4 separate regions of the Homo sapiens genome follow, and regions 2, 3 and 4 are each linked to region 1. Evidence: fine-mapped expression QTL. A gene starts in region 1. Each other region holds a variant in brackets. All regions are shown on one strand. Distances are from middle to middle.

Region 1 (5,598 bases):
AAAACATGAACATGTGGACAAATCTAAGGATAGTATAAACTGAAAAACTGCATAAAGTTAGGACTCCAGTAACTCCTTACACTAAATTCTCAACTGAGTATTTCTTCTTAAGCTCTGGAAGGGTGGATGGTAGTTGGGGGATGCTTAGGGTTTTAACAAAACTTAGGTCATATCTAAATGGCAGACACAGCTATGTTAACTTCAAGAGATAGAGAAGTTACGTTCTTTTATCTCTAATCTCCTCTGTGTACAGGCTCCACTCTCTATCCCTTCAATATTCAATTCAGTTCTGTAATAGCAAACCCCATGGAGCCTCAGAGGTTTGAAAAAAAAAAAAAAACCTTAAGAGTGCAAAGAACCTCAGAGGTAATTCAATTCAACCTCCGAAGACTCTAATGTAAGAATTTCCTAAGTATATACACAATGTCTGGTTTTTAAGTTTTAGAGCAGGCTTTTCTCTTGTAGGATCTTTGAGATTCTGTTAAGATTTATGGGTCCAGAATAATATACTCAAACATATAAGTGTACAATATTTTGAATAAAATTTCACAGGGTTTGCAGGTCCCTTGTTAAAACACCTCCTCTTCTGATTACGGGTTTCTCCATTACAGTTGTTTCCTTACTGGAGCTCGCAATTCTGTTTAGTTTTTTAAAAAAATTAAACATTTAAAGTAAAACAACCAATCTATCTAAAGGAAGAATTTGAGTTAAGGCAAAGACCTTGCCTATAGCCCCAGGCTGGAAGACAACTTTTACCGACTTCATATGTAACCTTCTTGGGACTTGCTGGATAATTCCTGTAATATACTGTTACTGTGAAGAGATAAGACATTATCAAAACAAACAAAGGAACAAAAAGACAACCATCAAAGTGAAAGGCAGTAATGAAAAAGTACTTTTAAATCTCCACATTAAAGAAAGCATTCCTGTAACATGACAATTTCCCCATAAACAAATAAATGGATTTCATAAAGAGATATTAGTTTTTATTTTTTCTCCATTTCTTCTTATGAATGATGGAGAACTAATAATAGTCTAACGATCTTTTAAGGCAAATTCATCTTCTCTGTGTCCAAGTATAACATTTACCACAAAAATTTCTGGTTGTGTTCCATGTTTTCTTCTATAACAGCAATAAGGAAGGAAACTGGTTATGTTCTATTCCAAAGATACGAAACTACAGTTTACTAAACTATAAGAAGGTAATCAGAAAATTTACTTTAGCTTTGCCACTTTTTATTAGAAAGAAAATAATAAAGGCAACTGAAAACAGGAGATTTTGTGGGCAGCAAACCAATACAGATGATTTTTTTCGAGCAGCAAGAATGCTTCAGATGGGCTGGGCGCAGTGGCTTACGCCTGTAATCCCAGCACTTTGGGAGGCCCGGAGGGCGAAAATCACCTGAAGTCAGGAGTTTGAGACCAGGCTGGTCAACACGGCGAAACCCCGTCTCTACCAAAAAAAAAAAAAAAAATCAGCCGGGCATGGAGGTGCGTGCCTGTAGTCCCAACTACTCGGCACGAGAATTGCCTGAACCCGGGAGGCGGAGGTTTCAGTGAGCCGAGATTGCGCCACTGCCCCCAGCCTTGGCGATAGAGCAAGACTCGGTCTCAAAAAAAAAAAAAAAAAAAGCTTCAGATGAATATTCTTTTCTGTTCTAAAGAGTTCTACTATTCACGTAGAAAATTTTAGCTTTACTGCAGAGAAATACAGCTAATACCTAAAAATCATCATGTGACAGCTGACAAGAGAAGAGAAGGAAGAAGGAAGAAGGTAGAAGGAACAGCTTATGCAAAGGAACAGTGGCAGGAAAGAGCCCCTGATGCCTCGTAATAAATTAAAGGTGGCCAGTGTGGAACCACCTAGAGGGAGACTGGGAGAAAGATAAGGCCAGATCCTACTGGGTTCCATAGGCCACATTATCACTTGCTTTCAAATGATTTCCCAGTCATCAGCAGATGTGATCATTTTGATCGCTAAACAGCAGTGCCGATTTTCCGACTTCTGTTTTTCTATTCAATAAAAGTAGGTCACTAGAGTTCTAAGAATTTAACTTCGGGTCATTTGAGTTGTAAGAATTTAAGTTCTTTCCAAGGAAACCAATGAGCTAATTTTTACTTAGAATGGTTAAAAAACAAAACAAAGTAAGACAAAACTCATAAACATCATAAGCATTCGGATTTTTCCTAAACTGGTTCTATTGCAGAAATAGAACCTAAACTGTTTCTATTTTTCCTAAACTGGTTCAACCATCAGTGGTTGGAACAGTACATAGGAGCCAACACGACTGTAAAGTGAATAATTTAAATCTCAAAGATGCTTTGATGTTTTCACGAACAGGTTTATGGTACTTCAACTGCTTAAAATAAACTCAATAAAATGGAAAGATGCATACCATGTCCTAGTTCAGCTATCCGCACATACTTACAAAAAGCTGTCCTTTTGACTTTCCACTTAGAACCCATATTGCTCAATTTTGAAATAATTCTTTTCCAGTCAATATAAAACTTTTAGAAGACAATTTACCGGACACACATACACACACATCTCAATGCCACGCGTGGTATCGCAGGACTTTGTCCAGCAAGTTAAACTGCCCCCATGGGCTCGCAGCAGGAAAACCGCAAGAGCCAGAGAAAGATAAACAGCGCTTCACAGTCTAAATACAGGCACTGTGGGCGATAATGCAGGGTAGCAGCAGAGAGAAGAGAGGAAAGTCGCCATAGAGGATGAGTGAAAGATGTTGAAGTGGCTGACTTGGGTCTCCGACGCATTTCCTGAGCCCGCCTAACAGGCTGGGTGGCCCCAGTTCGTGGGATCCCGATGGGGAGAGCCTTGGGACTGAGGGGCCGCCCGGCGGAAGGGCGGAGGGTAACGCCCCCTTCCCCAGGCTGAGAGGGAAGGAACTAGAGGTGTGGAAACCTCCTTTTACTGAACAACCAAGCTGAAACGAAGGAGCTCGGCGGCCTCCCAAGCCCGGGCCAGACCCCGCTCCCCAGCCCGGGCTCGCCCTCCCTGACCGCGGACTCACCAGCTGCAAGCCCTTGAGAACGCGCCGGAGCAATGGGAGCCGGCCCATGAAAAAGTAGGCAGCGAGGCCGCTCCGGGGGCCTCTGGCGGGGCCCGGGTCCTCCTCCGTAGTGGGGCTGTACACCGCTCCGTTCTCCATCGCCTCGGGCCGGGGAGCGCGGCGGCCGCAGCAACCGCGCCGTTGACTTCTCGGACTCCAGAAGTCCCCGGTAGCCGGGAGGCGGCCGTCACTTCCTGGGCCTTCTCCCCGGCTTCCGCCTGACTCCGCCCCTTCCCGCCCCCGCCCTTGGCCCGCCCCGCCCCCTCTCAGCAAATTTGCTTGTTAGCTGTTGGGATTCTTCCGACTTTCATCCAAGAATTGAGTTCTTTCTGTGAGCCTTTGATGGATTTCTCACCTCCCTCCATCTTTCATCCTCCTGACATTCATTCACTTAGTATTTTTGCGTACTTTCGGTGTGCAGTGAACCCCGTTCTAGGTACTTGGGTGACAGCCAAGTACTACCCAAAATCACAGGATCCCTAGTAACAGAGACAGACAATAAACAAGAAAACAGATGGATAGCAATTTCAGATAGTGATAAGTGACGTGAAAATATGATACGAAAATAATGGATTCAGCATTTCTGGTGGCTTGATAAATTTATTAAAAAAAAAAAGAAGATGGAGGAGGAGGAGAAGAGGAAGGAGAAGGAAAAAAGGATGGAGAATTGGGTGCTCTACTTAAATGGCCACTACTAAACTGAGTGGTCAGGAAAGGCCTCTCTGAGGACCATGATCTTTGAATTGAATGAGACTCAAAGTGTGAGAAGCCAGGCTTGTAAAGTTCTGGGGAGAGCCTTTCACGAAAGTGCAAATGTCCCGAGGACCAAATGAGTTTGACTCAATCTGAAGCCCAAAGGCCTGTGTCGCTAGGAATAAGTACGGGAGGAAAGGAGATGTTGGAGATGTAGGCAAAGGCCAGATAATGTGGAGGCCTTGCAGACCAAGGGAAGAATTCGTATTTCATTTGAAGTACAATGAGTTGTCTGTAAGGACTTTCAGAATCGCTCCCTCCCGCGTCTCCCGAAATTCCATTTAGGCTCACTTTTCAAAATCATTTCCTTTTTCTCTTTCTTGGTCACCAACTGCTACAGTCACATATGTTAATTTTGTGTGAACTTGTCAAGGAATGTAATTATATTTTAGCAACTGAAGTTGATTGAGTTACAGGATGTTCACAACAATATAAAGTAGGTTCGACAGTATAAAGTCGGTTACATTCATTTTCAAATGAGAAAACTGAGGCCAAGAGGCTGAAATCATATCCAAGGTCAAACAGCCAGGAGCAGCTGGAATGCAGGCCTAAGCAGTCTGACTCGAAACCTTGCTGCTAAACGCTAACCCAGAAAACGTCAGCTTCTAACTCATCTCTCCATTGGAGTCTCAAAACCCATGGAAGAGAGAAGGGGTTTCTGCTGCCATCAGCTGCTACATCTTCTCCGTGGCCCCAAACCTCCCTTTCTTCTTCCAGTAACAAACAAAAGCTCCCATTCAAATGAATAGAGACAAGTAGATACTGCCCTGCAGGGGCCACCTACAACCAGCCAGAACTACCCTTCTGTCTCTGATTACATGCACTCTGAATGTCCTCCCAAGGCCAAGATGCCACCAATTCTGTCCAACAAGGAAGGCCACTGTATTTTCACCAGGGCTACAAGGATTCATTGCCCCATTATTCTTCAAGTCACTATCATCCCAAATTAGACACTACTGATGTCTAAAAGTTCCTTTGAAATTCATCCAAAATTAAGATGAGTTGATGACTAGAGAGATGGATAAAAGATTTGTGATAGGCCAGGCGCAGTGGCTCACGCCTGTAATTCCAGCACTTCGGGAGGCCGAGGCAGGTGGATCACCTGAAGTCAGGGGTTCGAAACCAGACTGACCAACATGGTGAAACCCCGTCTCTACTAAAAATACAAAAATTAGCCGGGCGTGGTGGCGTGTGCCTGTAATCCCAGCTACTCGGGAGGCTGAGGCAGGAGAATCGCTCAAACCCGGGAGGTGGAGGTGGCAGTGAGCTGAGATCGCGCTACGGCACTCCGGTCTGGGCAACAGAGTGAGACTCCGTCTCAAAAAAAAAAAAAAGCAGGCCGGTCGCGGTAGCTCACGCCTGTAATCCCAACACTCTGGGAGGCCGAGGGGGACGGATCACGAGGTCAGGAAATCAAGACCATCCTGGCTAACACGGTGAAACTCCATCTCTACTAAAAATACAAAAAATTAGCCGGGCGTGGTGGCGGGCGCCTGTAGTCCCAGCTACTCGGGAGGCTGAGGCAGGAGAATGGCGTGAACCTGGGAGGCGGAGCTTGCAGTGAGCCGAGATCACACCATTGCACTCCAGCCTGGGCGACAGACCGAGACTCCGTCTCAAAAAAAAAAATCATTGTTAAAAAAACAACAACAACAAGGATCTCTAATAAAGCAACTGCAGTAACATATTAATGGTAATATTTAGGTGAAGTATACGGGTGTCCACTGTACAATTATTTCAGCATTTCTGTATGTTTGAACATTTTCAAAATAAA
Region 2 (7,959 bases), 640 kb after region 1:
TTACTAAAAATACAAAAAAATTAGCTGGGCGTGGTGGCACATGCCTGTAATCCCAGCTACTCAGGAGGCTGAGGCAAGAGAATCGCTTGTACCCAGGAGGTGGAGGTTGCAGTGAGCCGAGATCACACCACTGTACTGTAGCCTGGGTGGCACAGTGAGACACTGTCTAAAAAAAAAAATTAGCTAAGTATGATGGTGCACATCTGTAATCCTAGCTACTCAGGAGGCTAAAGTGGGAGGATTGCTGGAGCTCAGGAGTGGGAGGGTACAGTGAACCATAAGCATGCCACTGCACACTAGGCTAGGTGACAGAGCAAGACCCTGTCTCTCTGGAAAAAAAAAGAAGTGGAGAGAGTGAACATCCTTGTCTTGTTCCCAGTCTTAAAAGGAAAAAGCATACAGTCGTCTTTCAGCATTAAATGTGAAAGTACGTTATTAGCTGGGGGTTTTTTGTAGGTGCCCTTTATTAGGTTGAGGAAGTTCTATTTTTAATTCGTTGAATTTTTTTTTTTTTTTTTTGAGACGGAGTTTCACTCTTGTTGCCTAGGCTGGAGTGCAGTGGTGTGATCTCTGCTCACTGCAACCTCCGCCTCCCAGGTTCAAGTGATTCTCCTGCCTCGCCCTCCCAAGTAGCTGGAATTACAGGCATGTGCCACCACACCCGGGTAATTTTTCTGTATTTAGTAGAGACGGGGGTTTCACCATGTTGGCCAGTCTGGTCTCGAACTCCTGACCTCAGGTGATCAACTTGCCTTGGCCTCCCAAAGTGCTGGGATTACAGGCGTGAGCCACCGCACCCGGCCTGAATGTTTTTATCATGAATTTGTGTTGAATTTTGTCAAATGCTTTTTCTGCATCTATTGAGATGGTCACATGATTTTTGTTTCCCTTGTTAATATTCATTATAAAAATGACTTTTTTGTGACTAATATTACATGATATAGATAATTTTAAGAAATATAGCCTTTTTGTAGGCATTTAGTTTGCTTCCAACTTTTTGCTTTTACAAATAGCATAGCAGGGACTAAATTGTTTACTTCTTCTCTAATCATTTCCTTAGAAAAAATTCCCAGTGGTGAAATTCCTGGCCTAAGGCTGTGAACATTTTCAAGACTTCTGATGTACAAGAACAACATATATAGAAAGCAAATCATAGATACTAGAACACGAAGAGATTTTTCACATGATTCAGTAAAGCTCTCTCATGTCACAGATAAGGAAACAAACTCAGAAAGGCAGAGTGGCTTGCTCATAGTCACACAGAGGGTTAGTAATCATCTAATGAACACGCCAAGCTTATTGCAGGCTTTAAAATTCCTAGGATTCTTGGATTTGGCACTTTCAAGATAAAAGGACTTTGTTGAAGGTTCTGGAGTAGTTTGCTTATTAATTGAGGCTTTAGAATTGTGGAAGAACTAATCCATCTCTAAAGAATGAACCATTTTCTTACTATATACCAAATTATGGCAAGTAATACTTTGAAATGAAAATATAACCAAAATCATCAAATTCTTAGTTAGTCCTTCCATTTTCCAAAGGACATAATACTCCTTTGAAACAAAGCATCAGTACACTTTAGCTGCTGATATGTGTGGCATTCTTCCTTATTATCTTTCTGGTGTTGAAATGTGTATAAGCACTCCTGAAAGTTTACGCACTGGTTCAGAATTTTGCAGAGGTTTATTACAGTTTCAGAAACTTTTTAAAACAGGCTGAAACAGATGCTTCAGGTTTCAAGTTCTGATGGTTGTTTGCTTCAGGGAAGTCCAAAAGAAATAGAATATAATTTGTTGGAAGGATGTATTGAGGGAGTGCTCTCAGGTAGGAACGGAATGAGGGTCAGGGGAAGGAGCTCAACAAATACGTGGTCTCAGCTGGAGTCAAGCTTCGCCTGCTCCCATGGGGGACTCTGGAGCATGAATTGCACCACAGAGTTGTTCTTGCCTTTTGTAGTCCCCCTTATCAGTCTGTCATTCGTTCTTCGTTGCCAGGAAGGGCTGGTGTGTAACCTCCCTGTCAAGACTGCTGTTTTTTTTTGTTTTTGTTTTTGTTTTTGGCCAAAGGCAATTGCCCAGAGAAGGGGCAGCTGCTAGCCATTAGCAAGCAGCCCTCACAGGAGTTGGGGATGAGTGCACTGGGAAGGAGATCTGAGTGAGGCCCCAACAGTATTCACTACAACAGCCATGCAGGGGATGCATTTCTTTCGTCTGTGCTGCCTCGGGCACTTATTACTAGTGAGCTAAAAGCAAACAATACCATCATCCCGCAAGTCACAACAGACACACAGCAGGATATAGTAACTCCCTAAGCAGAAGTCATAGCTATACACATAATCCCTCTACTATGCTGTGTTTTCCTTTTGGGGTCTAGAAAGCAACTGAAAAACAATTTTTCCAAGCTGTAGTGTCTACAGTTTGAGTTTCTAATCTCAGGCATGACATAGTAGAAGTATTTGATGATAATACTAAGACCCCCCATTTGTGTCTCATGTACTTGATAGGTTTTCCAGTTATTCCCAAATGCTGCAAGATTTTTATAAATTTCTCTGTGTTAAAACATCAAAAGGAGCCAACAGGCTCTTGGCCTGGGATGGTGAGCTCAGTGAAGGAGGTCGAGTTTTAGCAGGGTTGGTGGGGCCAGTCTGTGTTGACTCTTATGGAAGGGGCCTCAGCCTTGGTCATTCACTCATTCTCTGCAGAAAAGAGAATGGGTGTCATCAGCTGGTGGTCCAGGAGGGTTATAGAAGAGAAGTCAATGTGGAGAAAGAAATTGGGAAGGGTGCTGGGCTGCTTCAAGTTGAAGTATAAGGCTGATTGCAGAAGGAGGGAGCAGGTGAGCTCCTGGTACCGACACTGGGCAAGTGGATCCCACTATCCCTGTGTGTCTCTCCTGTAAGAGGAGTGATTGCTTCAGTCACACCAGCAGTATGTATGCAAGCACTCAATCATTCATCCTTCAACACATGTATTGAGCACCTTCTGTGTGCTGGACTCTGGGGAAGAAAAATCAACCCAGTCCCCTGGTCCTTGAGAAGTTTGGGTTCTGGTGGTCAAGGCAGAAAGGGAACAGATAGAAAATGTTCCTGTGGGAGACCTGCACACATGAGAGGGGAGGAAGGGGAGTAGGCAGAGATGCACACAGGAGGGCCACTTAGTAGAGCTGTTCACAGGCTGGGCTGTCCGCCTCACACAGCATGTTGGCGGATCTCGCAGAGCACTTGATACCAAGTTCAAATGGAGTGGAAGCCGAGGTCCCCTCCACAGGGAGAAATCAGGTCCTCTGGGCCCCAGACCAGCAGAAAAAACCTGTTTCAGCCAAAGCAGACAGTGGTGATGGCCTCTCGGGATACTGTTTCTGCTCATCAGTACTTTTAAAAGTCCAATAGCCCATTTAATAAAGTTGTCCTGTTGTCTCTTACAGGGAGAAGTTGTGGAATATGTGGATGACCTCTTGGAACTGGAGGAGACCAGCTAGCCCACAGCAACCAAAGAGACTTCCTCTTGGCGTTCAGGAAACACAGATTCTTTGTCCTTTTCCCAACAGCCCAGGCTGTTGATACCTCAGAGCCTTCTCTTTACTCTCCAAAGTGAAAGGGAAGCCCCCGTCTCTCTAACTGCATGTCATCAGGGGTGAGCCTGCCTTTCCTATCTTCACACCTGCCACCTCATGTTCACACCTATCTTTCTCACCTTTTTTTTGAGATGGAGTCTCGCTCTCTTGCCCAGGCTGGAGTGCAATGGCA[C/T]GTTCTCAGCTCACTGCAACCTCCGCCTCTTGGGTTCAAGCAATTCTGCTGCATCAGCCTCCCGAGTACCTGGGATTACAGGCATGTGCCACCACGCCCGGCTAATTTTGTATTTTTAGTAGAGACGGGGTTTTGCCATGTTGGCCAGGCTGGTCTCGAACTCTTGACTTCAGATGATCCATCTGCCTTGGCCTCCCACAGTGCTGGGATTACAGGCGTGAGCCACCATGCCCGGCCTCTTTCTCACCTTTACACCTGTCTTCTTATCCTCACATCTGTTTTCACACCTTCATCCCTGTCTTCCTCATGTTCACACTTGTCTTCCCCATGTTCATAGCTGCCTTTCTTACCATTTTGGTTTGAAGGGCAGTCTTCTCTGGCTTGTTTTTTTGTTTTTCCCAGAAAATCAGTATTATTTTTTAAATAAGAAAAACATTCCTAGAAGATGATAATTGTGAAAACCTCCTTTGGCTTATTTGCTTTTCCAGATTTTAGTCTCCTTTCTCCCCATCCGGGAAAGATGGTGGAAGACATAGGCTAAATTTCTCCAGCCTCACAATGGTCTTCACTTGGTCTGACTTGTACCAATTCTAGCACCCACTGAAAAACAAGTTGAGTAGAGAGTGTAGAGTGCAGAAATGTGGCTTTTGCCCCACTTTGCATCTCCAAAATTACAACGGTTGGCCGATCCCATTTGAGGACAATGCTTAGTTATAAGTCTCCGAGTTGGAAAAGGAAGAAAGCCAGAGCTGTCTAGTTTCATTCATTCTTTCAGTAAATATTTATTGAGTACCTACTGTGTGCTAGGCATTGACCTGGGAACTAGAGATACTTCACAGAATAACAGGGAAAGTTCCCTGTGCTCATGGAGCTTACATTCTACAGGGAGAAAGAGATAGCCAATACATAGGAATAAATATATACAAGGTATCATGTAGTGATAATTGCTGTGGAGAAAAATAAAGCAGGGGAGGGAGTAAGAAATCCTGGAGATGAGGCTGCAGTTTTAAATGGGGCCTCACTGGGAATGTGACGTTGAGCAGAGACGTTAGGGAAGTGGATCCTGGACAAGGCATTCCAGGCAGAGGAACAGGATGTGCACTGCCCCAAAGTGAGAACTTGCTCTACGTGGTCAGGAAAGAGCAGGGAGACCAAGCAGAGTCGTGGGCAGGGGTAGAATGGAAGGAGAGGCGGCTGGGGAGGACAGGTGGTGGAGGGCCTTGGCTTCTGCTAAGTGAGATGGGAACCACTGGAGGGTTTGAACAGAGGAGTGCCTTGATTGATTTATATTTTGCAAGGGTCATTCTAGCTGCCATATTGTGAAAAACTTTAGTGGACAAGGGCAGAAGGAAGAGGGAAGACCTGTTAGGAAGCTACTGCAAGGTTCCAGGCTTGGGCCTGGGCCACAGCAACAGCAGTGGTCAAATATCTAGATTTATTTTGAAAAGAGCCAATAGGATTTGCTGAGAGTTTGAATGTGGAGTGTAAGAGAAGGAAGAGTTAATGATGACATTAAGGTTTTTGGCCTGAATAGCAGGAAAGATGGAGTTACCAGTTACTGAAATAGGGAAGGATGGGCTGGGTAAGTATGGAATTTGGTGCAAAGCAGGCTGTCTGTGGTTGGAATGGGAGGTTCTGGCTGCAAATCAAAGTGGAGAGTTCTCTCAGGTCAGGTCTGCAGCAGAGCTCGAGACAGGGATCTGAATGCACTTGGTTTATTGTTGGGGGTGCTCTCAGAAGGAACCTGTGAAAGCCTTTATCAGTCATTTATTGGCTGTGAGAAGTTCTCTGGGAGTGTGGGTACATTTGAAGGCAAGTGACTTCAGTTGAGGGCAAGTCTCTGGAAAAGAGGCTGTAGGCATCTGGCAGCTACCATGCATGGTAGTGTGTTGGGGGTGGGGGTCCTGGGCACTGGCTGTGTGAAGGGATCTGGCAGGGCACCACAGCGCCCCCTACTGAACCATCAGCATGTCAGTGGCATTTAAAGCCATGCAGCTGGAGGGGCCACTGAGATTGTCTCTGAGTATTACTGAGAAGCAACAGAAAAGAGCCATGGATGGAGCCCTTGGGCTCTCTGGGAAATGGGAAATCAGCCAAAGGACTGAGAAGGAGTTACCTTAAGGTCAGAGAAAACCAAGAGAGTGTGGTGTTCTGGAAGCTGAGCTTTCTTTATTCAACCTCATTCCCTTCTCCAAATAAGCCACTTGTGTAGTTGGGCCCCTCCAGGGTTGAAGGCAAGAGGAGAAAGGCACAGCGTTTGGGAAACAAGACTTTTCCTGCAATAGCCTGGGAAGGAATAAAAGGATAGAGTGTTTGGGTTTTTGTGTAATGGTGGTTAATTGGGGTGGAACACTCACACGTTGTGCTTTTTCTGGGCTTCCCTTATCCCCCAGAACACTCTACCAACCTCGGGGAACTCGGGCACATCCTTCTGTTTCTCCTTCAGCTCTATCCTGCTTTCCTCATCCCTTCTGACACCACGTCCTCACTCACCTGCACAAGAATCCCTGCATCAGGTTCTCCTTTGAGGGTACCCACCCAGGACAGTCCCCTACCACTTCTGTCTTGGGCTGAAGTTGCCCACGTCCACAAAATCTGTACTCCCAGCGGGGGTGTTTGGCCCGAGGAGTCAGTGTTATTACTGGTGGATGCACCGTGTCCACAGCAGCCCCCAATCCCAGCGATGCGTCAGATCTTACGTGGCTTCCTGCTGGGGGAGATGGCCTTCACCCACGGGATGCCGGGTTCTCCTTTCTTTCCTCACCCCAACCTTTACTCCACCAGAGAAACTTCCTTTTGAACTCAGTGGGGAAGAGGGTGATGAGACAGGACTAGAAAGTAGTGGGGGACCCAGCGAGTGGACGCCCTGCTCCGGGATTCCTGAGTCTGTAAATAGTGTGCCCAGCAGCTGTGAACTCCCCTTATAGCCTCAGGCTGCAGTGTCCTTCCCAGCTGTGTGAGAAAATGAAAGCCGACGTCCACAGGGACCCAGGCAGGGTTGGGTGTTGTGACTCACTCCACCTCTGTGCCCTGCAGAGGTACTGTTGGGTCCTTGTCTTGTGAGCCTGGGGTGAGCTCTCTGTACATGTTGTTGTTCCACGTATGGGTTGACTTGGCATGCTGGGGGGTCCTCGTTCACTCTCTGAAGTTGGCCTCCTTTCACTGGGGATTGAAAAGCACCTCCACCCCTACCCTAGTGATGTCCCCTGAGGACCCGGGTGATAGTACAGTCAATATTGTCAGTACTTTGCTTTGATTGAAGGCTGTAGAGCTGAGTTACCAAAATTTCTATTTCAAAGGAAACCAAACCTTAAAAAAAAAAAACAAAAACTGGGCTGGGTCTTCCAAACCTACCATGAAACCCTGGTGTGCAGGCTGCACTCAATGACCTCAACCCAACACCTCCCTGAGTGTGCTTCTTGGAAGAGCCTAGAAGATTCCTGGATGGAGACCCCATTGGTTCAGCCTCAAGTCTGGCCCGTCTTCGAAAAAACAAACACATTTGTAAGCTTTGTGGGAGCTTCCAGGCCTGCTCTAAGATGCCTTGCTTGTCCTTTGACCCATCAGCATGGAGCTCAGTGGTTGCTGTTTGGTTCTGCAGGCTGGTGGGGAGGCCGCCCATCGTGGTGGGGCATCTGTCCAGCCCCATTGCCACTCAGGGCATCCAAACAGGAGGCACCCGCTGGGAAGGGTCTAAAGATACTCCTTGTGGCCACTGCTACTGTTCACACTTGACTTGTGGAGAAGCGAAGGGCTGAGGGGAGGTTTGTGTACACCCATGTATTTAAAAGTGACTGACTGACTGAAATGAGCACATACCGACATATGCAACATACTAATACCTTCCTGATTTTCGAGACTTTCTAATTACTACAACTAACCTGTTGTGCTCACCTCTGGAATTCAGAAAGAGAGCCACTGCGAGCACTGACCACAAGGGCTGCCTTAGGAAGGAAATGTGTGCTTTCAGGAGTTCTTATTAGGGGAATTTTAAGAGCACAAAAATTTTATTGAACCCACCTTAGTGACAAACAGAAAATGATTTGTTAGATTGTCAGTTGGAAGGGGTTTATTATGACTGCTGGTGAAATAAACAGTGACCAGTTTCTGCCAACATTTATGGAAATAACGTTTCTAGGTTTTAAATGTGAGCCGTAAACTGAAGCTACTTCAGTTAAAAAAAAAAAAATCAATACTTAAACTGTAGGGAAAAGGTG
Region 3 (7,959 bases), 100 kb before region 1:
TATTGTTACTTTCCTATGTGATTATTGATTTTAGCAAGAACTTATGAGTGTACCATTATTTTAAAAGCAGAACCTATTCTTAAACTAAGAATACTTTTTCTTCTTGAAGAACTGGGACATTTCCGTAAGTTCTGGGTCTTTATTTAGTTAGTTAATATTATTAACTCGGGCCGGGTGTGGTGGCTCACGCCTGTAATCCCAGCACTTTGGGAGGCTGAGGTGGGCGGATCACGAGGTCAGGAGATCGAGACCATCCTGGCTAACATGGTGAAACCCCATCTCTACTAAAAATACAAAATATTAGCCAGGCGTGGTGGCACACGCCTGTAGTCCCAGCTACTCGGGAGGCTGAGGCAGGGGAATCTCTTGAACCCGGGAGGCAGAGGTTGCGGTGAGCCGAGATCGCAGCATTGCACTCCAGCCTGGCAACAAAGTGAGACTCTGTCTCAAAAAAAAAAAAAAATTATTAACTCATTCCCTCAACCATAAACATCATGTGACCAAGACTGCCCAACCCCCTGGGAATGTAATCCAGCAGATTTGGCTTTCTCTCGGCCTTTATTCAAGATGGAGTCACTCTGGTTAGGATGCCTCTGACAAGCTGAGGGGATGAACAAGTACCAAAATTGGCTGCTCAGGAAGGTAAACGTTCTGATAGTTGCCCACCTTATGGAAGAGGATCAGAGGGCAAAGGTGATATTTAAATTGCATCTTGACAGATGAGTGTAAGTTTTCAGGTTGGGAGTGGCTCATTTACCCCTTTGGTGCCTTTATTCAATATATGTTTAAGTTAGAGATAAGTGGTATGTTAGGGTTGGGAAGGAAAAAGATGTAGCAAGAAATGAGCCAGAATTGGGGTAATTATCTTAATCTTCCCACCCCAGACATTTAGAAATGGGTGCCATCTTATCCACTGAGCATCTGCTATGCTGTTAATCTTACGCTATGTGAAATACAGCTATTAACAGGATAGACTCTTTCTGCCTGTGCAGAAAAACAGACTGTGACGTTTACATAACCATAACATGGACAGAGAATCAGAATGTATTTCACAAGCGGCAATGATGGAAATCTAAATATCTTCTGGGAGGTTCATTTATTTATTTGGCAAATATTTGTTGATCACCTACTGTGATCAGCTAACTAGTAGGTGATCACGACTGTGTGCTAGGGAACTGTGGAAAGAAGACAGATGAGCCCCTGCCTCTTTATACTCAAATAGAGAAAATAAACATTAATCAAAATGGTTATGAATATGTAATTACAAACAGGTTCGAAATTATGAAGGAGAAGTACTCAGTGGTATAGAGCATATACTAGGGAGTGTGACCTTTTGGGGATTAGGAAGGGTGTTTCTGAGGAAGGGACATCTGATGTGAGCATGAGGAAATTGCATCACAAGCAGAAGAAAGAGCGTTGGCCGGCGCAGTGGCTCATGCCTGTAATCTCAGCAGTTTGGGAGGCCGAGGCGGGCGGATGGCTTGAGCCCAGGAGTTTGAGACCATCCTGGGCAACATGGTGAAACCCGGTCTCTACAAAAAAATACAAAAATTAGATGGGTGTGGTAGCACGTGCCTGTAGTCCCAGCTACTCGGGAGGTTGAGATGGGAGGATCTCTTGGAGGTCTAGGCTGCAGTGAGTGGTGATCGCCACGGCACTCCATACAGCCTAGGTGACAGAACAAGACCCTGTCCTCCCATCCCCCCAAAAAGAAAAGAAAGAGCACGGACCCTGGCTGTTAGTGGAGGGAGGAGTATCTCTAGGGCTGGAGGGGAGAGAACAGGGTGGGAGTATTGGGGATGAGACTGGAGGTATGCAGGGACCAGACTCCAGGGTCTGCCAAATCTTGGTGAATATATAGTCCTTAGTCTAAGAAAAATCAGCAAAGCATCATATCAACTCACCATTCATGAGGTGACTCTTAACTAGGGGCTGTACCGCCCCCTAGGGGTTATTTTGGAATTTTATGGAACCTTTTGTTTTTTTTTTTTTTTGGTTGTCACAGGGATTAGGGTTATATTACATATACATCTTATTCATTTCAGAATAGTAATGCAAACTGGAATTTTGACAGTGCAATTTTGACAGTGCAAAATACTTTATATCCTAAAAGGATGTTTTGTCTGAAATAAGATTGAAGGAGCCTTCCCAGACTGGGTGCTGGGGGGAGTACACTAAGGTTTCTTGGCAGGAGAGCGGGTCCTGGAGACCCTCTAAGAGGCCTGGGCAATTCCAGGCTTCACTTTGAGAATTCACAGGTTAGGTGCCAAGTGGAATTCAGCTGTGGGGGATGTCAGCCTCTGGTCTAGCTGTGAATAGACCTGTTAGCACAGAATAGCCCAGCATCATCCAGAAGGGCCCATCCCTTTATGTTCTGCTTTAGATGTGTATGGCGGAGGGCGAGGAGGGGGTCTAGTTTGGTTCCCAAGTGCAGTCTGCACACCCATGTCCTACTTCCTGGAAGTTGGAGAGTAAAAAGCAGCAAAGAACCTCACTGCCAAGATTCTTTGACCTCAGCCCATTCCTGACAAGAAACTACTGTCAGTGACCAAACAAATGCAAAAATAAAATATAATAAAATAAGTTATTGGCTTTATTCCTAACAAAAGTAATACTTGTTCATTGTGGAAACTTTGGGGAGCACAAGAAGAAAATAGACTCACCCACTCCCTCTTCCCCAAGATTAAAAAGTAAAACTAAAGTATTTTATAGTAGATACACATAATTTTGGTGGTGGTTTGTTTTTCTTTTTTAATTGAGACAGAGTCTCAGTTGCCCAGGTTGGAGTGCAGTGGTGCGGTTTCAGCTCACTGCAACCTCTGCCTCCCAGGACCAAGCGATTTTCCTGCCTTAGCCTCCCAAGTAGCTGGGATTACAGCCATGTGCCACCACACCCGGCTAATTTTTGTATTTTTAGTAGAGACGGGGTTTCTCCATGTTGGCCAGGCTGGTCTCAAACCCCTGACCTCAGGTGATCCACCTGCCTTGGCCTCGCAAAGTGCTAGGATTACAGGCGGGAGCCACCTTGCCCGGCTGGTGGTGTTTTTCTTTAAACAAAACTAGGATGATTCTATACATATTTTGTAAATGCTTTTCTTTTTTTTTCTTCTTCTTCTTTTTTTTTTTTTTTTGAGGTGGAGTCTCACTCTGTTGCCCAGGCTGGAGTGCAGTGGCGCGGGCTCACTGCAACCTCCACCTCCCGGGTTCAAGTGATTCCCCTGCCTTAGCCTCCCGAGTAGCTGGGACTACAGATATGTGCCACCATGCCCAGCTAATTATTGTATTTTTAGTAGAGACGGGGTTTCACCGTGTTAGCCAGGATGGTCTTAATCTCCTGACTTCGTGATCCACCTGCCTCGGCCTCCCAAAGTGCTGGGATTACAGGTGTGACCCACCATGCCTGGCTGTAAATGCTTTTCTTGCTGTTTGTTTAGTATGTGGTGCATTTTGTTCGTCTGCAGTTTGGTTTCTAACAGTGCTGTCATAGCCAGTCATGGAGGTACCCTGGTTGTGTGTACCATGGTACACTGTGGCTCTGGGAGCTTCCAGTTCTACCTGCATACAAAGGAGGCTGTGATGAACCTCCATGTAGAGAATCCTGGTGTACAAATCTGTAAATACTTCTTCAGGATAATTGGCACTGACCTTTTCCAGAGAGAGAAATGAAGTGTCTCTTGCCCTTCTTAGGTGGCTGGCATAAAACAATTCTCTAGACTTTTTAACATCTAGAAATTAATGAGTGCCCCTTTATCATCCAAGAGTTTCAAGGAGCCAAGTGTGATAGTAATAGTATTTAAGCTGTAATCATATTTTTGGTGTCTGATGATTTAGAAAAGGAACAGTGACAGACAGACTAGAAAATTCAAAAATGCTTTTAAATGCTCTTGTATTTAAGTGATGGCCACAGTATCTGCATATATTTGAAGAATGGAAGTTCCACTCTTGCGGAAGGCCTTACCTATTCAGGCTGCAGAGCTTAAGGCTTTTGTAATCACCGGCAAGAATTCCCATCCAGGACACCTCAAATAACCACTTACAGCCCGACTGGGAATCACTGGCCCGAGTGAGGCGATAGGGATGGAAATACCAGCCCAAAGTCCTCCAGGCTGCAGGCAGCCAGGGCGTAAGTGGGTAGAGGAGGGGTTCGGGGTCGGTGTGAGCCCCATAGGTTTTCTGGCACTGCAGGGGCCCTAGAGACCCCGGCCCCGCAAGCACGCCAGGACCCTGGAATCCTAGGGGATTCCCTGTGTGGGCCGGTGTATTTATTTAAATTCCCGTTGCAGCGAAGGCCGCCCTTCTGTCTTCCTGCCAGCCCTGGCGCTTCCTGTGCAGCGCCACTGGACAGCCATCTGTTTCCTCCCCTCTGCCATCTGCCTCGCGCC[G/C]GGCCCAGCGTGCGGCCCTGGAAGCCTGGCTCGGCCGCCGCCCGCGCACGCTGGCCTTCTTTGTTACTACTTTGGCTCAGTGGTTTCCTGGGCTCGCTGCTCATTCCCTGGCAGGGCTCGCGGCGTCCGCGGCGACTCCTGGGATCGGCAGGGGCCTGGCTTCCAGCCCAGCGCCGGCAGCAGCCCGGGGGCTGCGGAGCGGAAAGGGGGCTGGGACGCGGTCACTGCTCCAGCCACCCGGCGCTCCTGGGCGGAAATCGCGAGCAGAGCCCTTCTCAGCCTCCTGCAGAAAACGCGCCTCACCTGACTTGTGTTTAAATCAGCAAGGGCAGTGACGCGGCTCTTCCTTTTCCTGGGGCAGTCACTCTCCTCCCTCTGCTGAGCCCGCTCTCTTTAGTTTACTTTAAGCAAAGGTTTTGTTTGTTTATTTGTTTGTTTGGTTTTGGTTTTTTTGAGACGGAGTCTAAAAAGTCTTCAGTCTGTGGCCCAGACTGGAGTGCAGTGGTGCAATCTTGGCTCACTGCAGCCTCCTCCTCCCGGGTTAAAATGATTCTCCTACCTCAGCCTCCCAGGTGGCTGGGGCTACAGGCGCGCGCCACCACGCCCAGCTAATTTTTGTATTTTTAGTAGAGACGGGGTTTCTCCATGTTGGCCAAGGTGATCTCGAACTCCTGACCTCAAGTGATCCACCCGCCTTGGCCTCCCAAAGTGCTGGGATTACAGGCACCAGCCACTGTGCCCGGCCAGTTTACTTTAGATAGTTAGAAAGACCGATTGATAACCAGAGAGGCGGTAACCCGCAGTTTCCACTTACTACTCCCAAAGGGTTGCCCTGAAGCTTCAGAAAAAAGCTGTGTCATGCTCATTTGTTTTATTTTATTCTATTTTGTTTATTTTATTTTATTTTATTTTTCGAGACAGAGTCTCACTTTGTCGCCCAGGCTGGAGTGCAGTGGCATGATCTCGGCTCACTGTAACCTTCGCCTCCTGGGTTCAAGCAATTAATTATCCTGCCTCAGCCTCCCAAGTAGCTGGGATTACAGGCTCCCGCTACTGCGCCCGGCTAACTTTTGTATTTTTACTAGAGACAGGTTTCACCATGTGGCCAGGCTGGTATCGAACTCCTGACCTTGTGTTCCGCCCACCTTGGCCTCCCAAAGTGTTGGGATTACAGGCGTGAGCCACTATGGCCGGCCACTCATTTTTTTAAAGAGAAAAATGAAGATCCTTCTGAAATAAATGGGAAGGGGAAAAGGAGAAGTTAATTAAATGCTTTTGGGTACAGAGTGAAGTGGAGCCTTCTGGAAAGCAGAGAGAATTACTGTATCGTGACTTCTGAATACTTTGTCTCTTTTTCCTCTTCAGATTTCCTTATTCCCTGAGAAGCCAGCGTCAGCTCTCAACATTGTTTGTGAAAAAATCTACACTTTAAACGTTTCCTCTTAAGTTATGAGAGTGGTACTTAACTAAATAATAGCACTTTGACCTCCTTAGGTGACAGCCACTAGGCTAGGTGGTTTATGTTTTGTTTTGTTTTGCTTTTTGTTGTTCTTGTTGTTTGTTTTTGAGACAGGGTCTCACTTTGCCACCCAGGCTGGAGTGCAGTGGTGCTATCTCTGCTCACTGCAGTCTTGACTTCCTGGGCTCAAGCGATCTTCCTGGCTCAGCCTCCCAAGTATTAACAATTGGGGCTACAGGTGCAGGCCACCACGCCTGTCTAATTTTTTGTAGAGACACGGTTTTGCCGTGTTGCTAAGGCTACTCTTGAACTCCTAGGCTCAAGCAATCAGCTCACCTCGGCCTCCCAAAGTGCTGGGATTGCAGGCATGAGCCATGGTGCCGGCCGGGCTAGGTGTTTTTTATATGTGTTACCTTGTTTAATCCTCACAACAATATTATGAGGTGGGTCGTATCATTATCCCCAACTCATCGAGGAAACTGAGGCACAGAGTCATAAATACTGAAGGTGGATTTGGGGCCAGGTGGTCCAAGTCCACCACTTGAGCTCTTAAAAGGACAATTTGGGGTCTTTTTTTCATGATCATTATGTTGTGTATATTTTCCTGTGTCATTAAACACTGAAAATGATGTTGTGATCACTGCATTCAGTCCATTATTTGGTCGTACTATATAATTTGTTCATTTGGCTCTTCCTTGATGGGCAGGCTGTGGCAGATCTAGAAGGAGGTGCTATGAGACATAACAGCAGGTGCTAGTGATGACTTCATCCTTTGCCAGAGATGAATTCAGCTGGAGTGGGGAAAACTCCTCACTGGGGTATTGAACGGACTAAGTATACACCATATTTTAGGAAGCATTTTCACATTACCCAACGTTATTATTATCTTCATTTTTATTTCTAAGTTCCTCCAGGAAGGACTGGGAAGAGAGAGAGGATCTAAAGTTTCAATTCCTGCTCTATTATGTCTGCTGATTTTACATGCAATTTCCCTTTGTTTAATCTTTTCTTTCTTTCTTTTTTTTTCTTTTTTTTTCTTTTTTTTTTTTTTTGGAGACAGAGTCTCACTCTGTTGCCTAGACTGGAGTGCAGTGGCTCAATCTCGGCCCACTGCAACCTCCACCTCCCAGGTTCAAGCAATTATCTTGCTTCAGCCTCCTGAGTAGCTGGGATTACAGGTGCATGCCACCATGCCCTGCTAATTTTTGTAATTTTGTAGATAACGGGGTTTCACCATGTTGGCCAGGCTGGGCTCGAACTCCTGACCTCAAGTAATCCCCCCTCCTTGGCCTCCCAAAGTGCTGGGATTACAGGTGTGAGCCACCGCGCCCAGCCTGTTTAACTCTTCTAATGACTCTGTGGAGTATTCAGTTTTTCCTCCTTTTGCTTGAACAGAAGCTGAGAGGTTAAAAGTTAAATACATAGCTGTCCAAAGTTGAATACATCTGTTAAGTTGTGGAGCCAGCATTTGAACCCAGGTCCAGCAAGTCTTCTTTTTCCACCGTGGTGTGCTATCTCTCCATGTATGGAAAGCCGTCTCCCACACTAGCCCACCATGGTATGCACACCTGAGGGTGACTCCCAGTCAGTCACATCCTGTGTAATTCCATCCTCTTGAGTGTGAGTGGAATCTCTGACTTGCTTCTAACCAATGGAATATGGCACAGGTGGCAGGATGTCATATGCCAAGGTGAAGGGATGTTACAGAAGCAGTTAGAGTCCCAAAGGAGTTGATTGTGAGTTAAAAGATTTTCTCCAGGTGGGCCTGCCCTCATCAGGTAAAAGCCTTAGAAGAAGTACTGGGTCCTTCCCAAAGGGAGAGAGTCTCCTGCTGGCTCTGAAGAAGTGAACTGCCTTGTTGAGAGAGGGCCTGTGAGGGGCCATGTCACAAGCATCCAAGGGTCATGCCTAGAAGCCAGAGCAGCCCTCAGCTGACAGCCAGCAAGAAAACGGGCCTTCAGACCTATGGTTACAAGAAACTGAAAGCCACTAACAGCCATGTGAGCTCGGAAGAGGACCCCAAGCCTGGCCAACCTCTTGTTGCAGTCTTGTGAGACTCTGAACAGTGGACTTCTCCCCAGACTCCTGCTCCGTGGAAACTGTGAGAAGATAAATGAA
Region 4 (7,959 bases), 22 kb before region 1:
ACTGAAAAACAATAAAAGACCTAAATCAATGGAGATTCTATGTTCATGAATATGAAGTTCAACCAGTAAGATGCCATTTCCCCCAAAATTAATCTTCCAATTCAATGCAATTCCAAGAAAAAAGCAAGAGATAGGTGAGGTCTATCGCTACAAAAAATTTTTAAAAGGTGGCCAGGTATGGTGGTGTGTACCAGTAGTCCCAGCTACTTGGGAGACTGAGGTGGGAGGATCGCTTGAGTCCAGGAGTTGAAGGCTGCAGTGATGCAGTGAGCTAGAGCACACCACTGCACTCCAGCATGGGCAATAGAGTAAGACCCTGTTGAGAGGGAGGGGAGGGAGAGAGGGGGCAAGGGAGACATGGAGGGAGGGAGAGAGGGAGGAAGGAAGGAAAGGACAGAGGGAGGGAGGGAAGGAGGGAAGGAAGGACAAATTTGGAGGTTGGTACATAAACCAAGGAAATAGAACAGAGAACCCAGAAATAAATCCATGCATTTACTGCCAACTGGTATTTGAGAAAGGTACCAAGAACGTACGTTGGGGAAAAGACAATCTCTTAAATAAATGGTGCTGGTTAATGGTAACTTGGGAAATGAATATAGTGCTGGGAAAACTGGATATCCATATGCAGAAAAATGAAATAGACCCCTCTCTCTCACCATATATGAAAATCAACTCAAAATGGATCGTAGACCTAAAAGATCTGAAACTACAAGAAGAAAACGGGAAATGCTTCATGAAATTGGACTGGGCAAGGATTTTTTTAATAAGACCTCAAAAGCACAGGCAATGAAAGCAAAAATAGACAGATGGAATTACATTAAACCAAAAGGCTGTGGCCCAGCAAAGGAAACAATCAATAGAGTGAAGAGACAATCTATAGAATGGGAGAAAAGTATTTGCAAACCATCCATCTGACAAGATGTTAATATCCAGAATATACAAGAAACTCAAACAGCTCAATAGCCTCCCCTGCCAAAAAAAAAACCTAATGCCCAAAACACCTAAATAGACATTTCTCAAAGAAAAGACATACAAATGGCCAACAGATACATGAAAAAAATGTTCAATATCACCATTCATCAGAGAAATGCAAATCAAACCACAATGAACTATGAGCTCATTGGCGACTATTAAAAAGACAAAAAATAGGGCTAGGCGCCAATGGCCCACGCCGGTAATCCCAGCATTTTGGGAGGCCAAGGCAGGTGGATCACAAGGTCAAGAGATCGAGATCATCCTGGCCAACATTGTGAAACCCCATCTCTACTAAAAATACAAAAATTAGCTGGGCGTGGTGGCGCATGCCTGTAGTCCCAGCTACTCGGGAGGCTGAGGCAGGAGAATCACTTGAACCTGGGAGGTGGAGGTTGCAGTGAGCCAAGATCACGCCACTGCACTCCAGCCTGGGCGACAGTGCAAGACTCTGTCTCAAAAAAAAAAAAAAGACCAAAAATATCAAATGTTGGCAAGGATTTAGAGAAAGGGAAACTCTTATGCACTGTGGGTGGAAATGTAAATTAGTACAGCCATTATGAAAAACAGTATGGAGGTTCCTCAAAAATTAAAAACAGAACTACCATATATGATCCAGCAGTCTAATTACTGAGAATACATTCAATGGTGGTGAAATCAGTATGTCAAAGAGCTATCTGCACTCCCATATTTATTGCAGTGCTATTCACAATAGCCAAGATACAAAATCAATCCAAATGTCCATCTACAGATGACTGGATAAAGAAAATGTGGCATGTGTGTACAGAAATACACGATAGAATATTGTTCAATCATAAAACAATGAAATCCTGCTTTTTTTTGCAGCAACATGGATGAACCTGGAGGACATTATGTTAAGTGAAATAAGCCAGGCACAGAAAGACAAACACCACATGATCTCATTCATCTGTGGAATCTAAAAAAGTTGATTTCACAGAATGAGAGAGTAGAATAACGGTTACCAGTGTCTGGGGAGGGTAGTGAGTTTGCAGGAGTGGGGACTGGGAGAGGTTGGCCAATGGATACAAAGTTACAGTTAGGAAGAATAAATTCTGGTGTTCTATTATACAGCAGAGTGACTGTAGAAATGAATAATGTAGGCGGGCCAGTGGTGGCTCACCCTTGTAATTCCAACACTTTGGGAGGATCGCTTGAGCCCAGCAATTCAAGACCAGCTGGGGCAACATGGCAAAACTCGTCTCTACAAAAACTACAAAAATTAGCTACTCGGGGGCACTGAGGTGGGAGGAACGCTTGAACCCAGACGGTCAAGGCTGCACTGTGCTCCAGCCTGGGCGACAAAACAACCCTGTCTCAAACAACAACAATGTAGTGTATATTTCAAGATAGCTAGAAGACTTTGAATGTTATCACTACTAAGAAATAATAAATGTTTAAAGTGATGGATATGACAAACCCTGATTTGATACAATGTACACATATATTGAAACATCATACTGTACTCCATAAATATGTATAATTGTCAATTATAAATAAAAAATTAATTTAAAAAAGGAATATTCTATACTTCCTAAAATGTTTAAAGGTTTACATCTTATATTTAGTACTTGATGCTACTTTGGTTTTGATGTATTGTGTGAATGCCTCACACCATCTAGTTTATTGTTTCAATGGGTGGCCCCTTCTCTGACATACAATGTTGCTTCTGTTTAAGTGGATATATATGTATAGGTCTGTTGCTGGCTTTCTTGGGCTATTTTTTATTACCTATGTTAATAACACAGACTTGATCAAACCTTAATTTCTGATAGTGCAATTTCAAAATTGTTTTATGCTTGGCTTTTTTTTTTTTTTAAGATGGGGTCTCACTGTGTCACCCACTCTGGAGTGCAGTGGCACAATCACAGCTCATTTCAGCCTCACACTCCTGGGAGAAAATGCTGTTAGGATCCTCTAGCGATCCTCCCACTTTAGCCTCCTTAGTGGATTGGACCACAGGTGCAGGCCACTGCGCCTGGCTAATTTCAGATCTGTTCTTTTTCCTCAAGATTGCTTTGGCAATCCAGAGTCTTTTGCACTTCCATATGAATTTTCAGATTATTTTTTCTATTTCTGAGAAATAAAGGTCAACAAACAAGTGAAAAGACAATCAGGTTCACCAGAAACAGGAAGAATACAAAAAAAAAAAAAAAAAGAGGCACCATTTCAGTACCAGACGAGCAAAAATGTTAAGTTGAACTAATATTAAGTGCATTACAAGAGTGGGGAAACCAGCACCTCATTCACTGCTGAGGGAAATATAAACTGGGTCTACCCTTTGGAGATCCATCTGGAAATATTTAGCCATGCTGAAATCATAACGTACCTTCTGACCCACCAGACAATTTAACTTCTAAGTAGTTACCCACCATGTAAATTCTCACATGTGCACAAGAAGAGATGTTCAAATACATTTGTTCCCTGTAATGTTAAGATGGTCAAAAGCTGAAAATGCTGTTAGAATTTTTCTATCAGTAGGAGAATAAGTAAATTGTGACATATCCATACAATGAAATACCAAACAGCATTTAAAATGAATGAACCAGAGTTACAACCTTGAAGCAAATATGGCAAAATGTTATAATCTATTAAAGGTGAGTGAGTGGAGTCTACAACAGGTATTATCCTCTGTGCTTCCAGTACTTGAAATATTTCAGGCCAGGCGCCGTGGCTCATGCCTGTAATCCCAGCACTTTGGGAGGCAAGGCAGGTGGATCACCTGAGGTCAGGAGTTTGAGACCAGCCTGACCAACATGGTGAAACCGCATCTCTACTAAAAACACAAAAAAATTAGCAGGGTTTGGTGGCATGCGCCTGTAATCCCAGCTACTCAGGAGGTTGAAGCAGGAGAATCGCTTGAACCCGGGAGGCAGAGGTTGCAGTGAGCCAAGATGGCGCCACTGCACTCCAGCCTGAAGGATAGAGCAAGACTCTGTCTCCAAAACAAACAAACAAATTCAAAAATTTTAAAAAGTAGCTAAATATAAAAATGTTGGGGAAAAGACAATACTTCTCCCCCCACCCCGTTGTTT[T/TTTTG]TTTGTTTGTTTGTTTGTTTTTTTGAGATGGAGTTTTGCGCTTGTTTCCCAGGCTGGAGTGCAATGGCATGACCTCGGCTCACTGCAACCTCCGCCTCTGGGGTTTGAGCGATTCTCCTGCCTCAGCCTCCAAAGTAGCTGGGGTTACAGTCATGTGCCACCACACCCAGCTAAATTTTGTATTTTTACTAGAGATGGGGTTTCACCACATTGGCCTGGCTGGTTTCGAACTCCTGACCTTAGCTGATCCGCCTGCCTTGGCCTCCCAAAGTGCTGGGATTACAGGAGTGAGCCACTGCGCCCAGCCTCCCCCTTTATTATATCAATTTCTATGACACACATTACTGTACTTGTAGAAAAATTTGGCCACTGAATTCACCAATGTACCCAGATGTCTTATGAAATAAGTTTTTCTTACTGTTTAAGACACATTTAATTAGATTTTCTGCTTCTTGCAGCTTATTGCATATTGATACAATGCTCTTTATCAAAACAAAACTCAACTCTAAACTCTGAAGAATGTACAAATTCCAGTGAGTTCTTGATGACTATAAAGACCCTGTTATTCTCACACAGGGTGGAGGCAGGAATTTCGCAAACTACACAAATAGCTGTAGTTTTACCAGCACCACCCTAATAATTTTGCTTCACACTTTCCCAATCATTGAACAGTTCCTAAGATAATGTGCCTATTTTGTTTTTAGCATTGTTAGCCACATCTAGAAATGTGACAAGGAGTCTAAATTGCTTCTTTGGAAGTATTTAAAGCCATTTGTAAGTCTTCCTCTGTGGTTCCCTAAAAATGTTGTTTAAATGTGTATTCTAACTTTCCAACAAGAGGGACAGTTTATGGATGGGAAATGGATTTGTTTCTTTTCTATCCTAGATATATCTAAAATCTAGTATTCTATATAGGCACTCAACAAGATTGTGCAGCCAACTCCCACAACTACAGAGACAGCTTTTCATTTAAACATCACACTTCTGTAATAAACACTTACAAAGGTAAGAACGTTTTAATTAAATGGATTTATTTAAAAAGACTATAAAATCTGACATCAAGAGAGATAAAAAAAAAAGACCCATAAGATTTAAATTGACAAATATAAAATGATTGGCTACAATGTAAAAATACATTTCCCAGCCCCCAAACAAAACACAAGTATAGTAATTATAAAATTTTTGTACTGTGAGTTCATTTCTCTTATAATTCTTGAGAACCATTCTAAGCAATCTATTTGTATAAAATATAAAATTTATCATAACTGTTAATTTAAAAATTATTTTAAATTTGAGTTTATTGAATTTGCCATTTTTTTGTACATAACAGTGGTTTCTGGTCCCAAGTTCCCCTTGAACTTATTTACTACAATGGTCTTTTTACTCCTATTTATTTCCTTCTACAATAGAAAAGAAAGGCTAACCATTCATGGGTCCCATAAAAAACAATGTGAAGGAAGGTTCTAAGAGTGACCAAATATACCAGTGAACATACTATCTTTCTGAAAAAGAAAGAATTAAGTGACCAACTAAGAGATCCACTTTTGCACCAATGAAACACATGGAGGTGAAACCTCAGAACAAGCGGAGCTTAAGCTCAATGACAGTATGTTTTATATGACAGGCCAGCTGAGAATGTATCTGTCAATCCTGACTAAGCCCAATACATGGGTGGTGACCCTGAGGTAGCCCAGATGATATGCTCTGAATTTTAGATAGGTCTAAATCACAATGGTACAGTCTGATGTGAAACTTTAGTCTACCTACCATAAACTCGTTTTCTGAATCAGTCCTTATTCATAATTAGACCCAAAACCCAGCTATTTCTCCTCTCTTAGATGACATGCCCAATAAAAACAGCATCCATGATTGGTTTCATTATCTCCCAATTAAGTAGTGGTGACACCACCACTAACACTAGTATCCAAACTCTGATACAAATCCTAAAGGTATTGAGTCAGTAAGACAGAGCAGAAGCTATGTTGGGCCATACTGACCAATTTCTGAGAACCACATTAGCCACATTCATGCAATTAAAACCCATCTAAGACACACAAATGGCAGATGAGAAAAAAAAAAAAGGATGAGGTCATTAAACTTTATCACTGGAAACATGATTCCACTGTTTCAAATAGGAAACCTACCCTGGGAGACTTCCACCAAAGTGCAGAAGGACCTGATGCACGGGCTCATCATCTTAACACTAGAGTCCCAAGTCAAAACTCTAGGAGGAGGATAAGAAAGGTCTAGTCTGTGAATCACCTGGACAGAAAGGTCATATCCCAAGTGCCCTGCCTATCTGTGACAGCTGCTAGCCAACAGACAATTCTGGTTATGAAGTTATCTCTTGAGAATGGCTTGATTCTCTTATGCCACCAACAGTATTAGTCTGGGCAGGGTTCCCTGGATATTTACTTTTTTTTTTTTTTTTTTTTGCCAAAGACAAACTAGAGCAATGCCTATGTAAGAACAAGGACTCTCAAGATCCTGCTACACAGTATTCACAATCAAAAGGGCCCAAGATTCAGGACCACCTAAAGACAACTGACAAAAAGTGTCAGAGCCAGAGGCCAACCTCTGCTAGATGAAGCAGCAGCACATGACTCCATTTCTATCTGATAAGGAGACAGAGAAGAGGCATCTCGAACAGATGAAAAACCAAAGGCTGGTGTCCTAAAAAAAACAGATTGGCTTCAAAGAAAACACTAAGGAAGACCCACAGAGCTGTATTAATTTTAGTAAAAATAATCATATGCCAACAGGGGAATTGAACCACTTTCTAAATCATAGTATGAACTCATCTCTTCAGATACTTGGTAAGTGGTCAAAGCTTGTTTTTATAATTACTTTCACTGTCTTGGGCAAAAAGTCTTTCTTATCTTTGGTCCTTAGGTGTGGTATCAGTTTCTTCCATTTTTTTATGTGTTACAAAACAATCTTTTTTTTACTTGACATCAACAACCAAGGTGCAGTATAAACACGAAGTTGCTGATATTGTTGCTTTTATACACATAAAATACCAACATCTCCCATACATTTTATAGGCTATACGAAGGTCTCAAAGAATTAATAACCGTTATCCAAAAATATTATAACATTTAAGGCTGAGTGAAATACAGTAAAGCCTGGTAATATATGTTAAGGAAAAAAACCTAGACCAACATTTTAAATATTGGTTTCTTAAATATGTTAAATTCCCATTAACAGAACATAATCTAAGCATCAAAACAAACAGCTAAGCAAATTAATTTAAAAATAAAACAATTTCTAAGTAGATGAATATAATCACGATGTTTATACAGCTATAAAGCATAATTTGGAAGCTAAGCCTAGTAAAAGAATGACCTGTAACAGAATGACAGAATCATTTATCAACCGTTGAGCTGTGTGATTTAAAAACAATTGTTTTCTCCTCCTCCCACCAAAATCTCCATTTGAGATAAGTTTCAATTATTATTTAAAAAAAAATTTTTTTTAACTTATCTGGCCTACTTTGTGGTGACTGACACAATATTGATAAAACTGCCTTCTTGACCTTCCCCTTGCTCTCCAAAAGAAGTGGTTTAAACAATTAACAAATTTTACAAGAGCTTCTGCCAGGGCTCAGGCACCACAATGCAGGGTCACTACCTTAGGTAACATCTGCTCCCCAGAGTCTTTAGGCATTAAGTGGCTCAGTGAGGGCTTCAGCCCTAGTGGTATTTTCAGGTTTTCTCAGCTGGGACTCCTGTCGTTTTTCATACAGCATAGTGATAAAGTCAAGTAGGAACATAAAACTTGCTATAAATCCAAACACCTGAGGAAAAAAAGGAGGAAAGGTTATATGAGAATTTTGGAATATAATCTTACATTTCCTACTTGGCTTGGAGAATGTTTCATATAAACAAGATGTTCATGAATTTTATCTTATACACGACTACTCTTTAATGGTAAA

Direction of the effects. Positions count from the first base shown, and alleles are read on the strand shown. Sizes are in standard deviations (SD) of each study's normalised expression. Not every link is listed here.
For the expression in B cells of the gene that starts at base 3,277 in region 1, allele C in region 2 goes with a higher level than allele T (large effect, 1.5 SD a copy in Schmiedel 2018).

Evidence for each region.
Region 2: its variant is fine-mapped to the expression of CMTM6 in B cells (Schmiedel 2018, PIP 0.95).
Region 3: its variant is fine-mapped to the expression of CMTM6 in cerebellum (GTEx, PIP above 0.99).
Region 4: its variant is fine-mapped to the expression of CMTM6 in whole blood (INTERVAL, PIP above 0.99).

What each region holds. Positions count from the first base shown.
Region 1 is chr3:32,499,576-32,505,173 of GRCh38, forward strand. CMTM6 (CKLF like MARVEL transmembrane domain containing 6) reads right to left here and starts at 3,277. Exons shown (of 4, transcript NM_017801.3): 1 at 3,033-3,277. The coding sequence starts at 3,170. RefSeq lists silencers at 2,988-3,217, 3,288-3,377.
Region 2 is chr3:33,138,975-33,146,933 of GRCh38, forward strand. It overlaps CRTAP (cartilage associated protein), which reads left to right. Exons shown (of 7, transcript NM_006371.5): 7 at 3,421-7,959. The coding sequence ends at 3,474. Among named protein-coding and RNA genes, the nearest start is that of CRTAP, 29 kb to the left of the region's middle. The variant C/T (reference allele first, on the strand shown) is at 3,743.
Region 3 is chr3:32,397,285-32,405,243 of GRCh38, forward strand. The region is part of intron 1 of CMTM7 (CKLF like MARVEL transmembrane domain containing 7); the gene reads left to right. Among named protein-coding and RNA genes, the nearest start is that of CMTM7, 9.4 kb to the left of the region's middle. RefSeq lists enhancers at 3,697-4,566, 4,567-5,434 and a silencer at 4,525-4,704. The variant G/C (reference allele first, on the strand shown) is at 4,383.
Region 4 is chr3:32,476,277-32,484,235 of GRCh38, forward strand. It overlaps CMTM6 (CKLF like MARVEL transmembrane domain containing 6), which reads right to left. Exons shown (of 4, transcript NM_017801.3): 4 at 5,036-7,821. The coding sequence ends at 7,684. Among named protein-coding and RNA genes, the nearest start is that of CMTM6, 23 kb to the right of the region's middle. The variant T/TTTTG (reference allele first, on the strand shown) is at 4,026.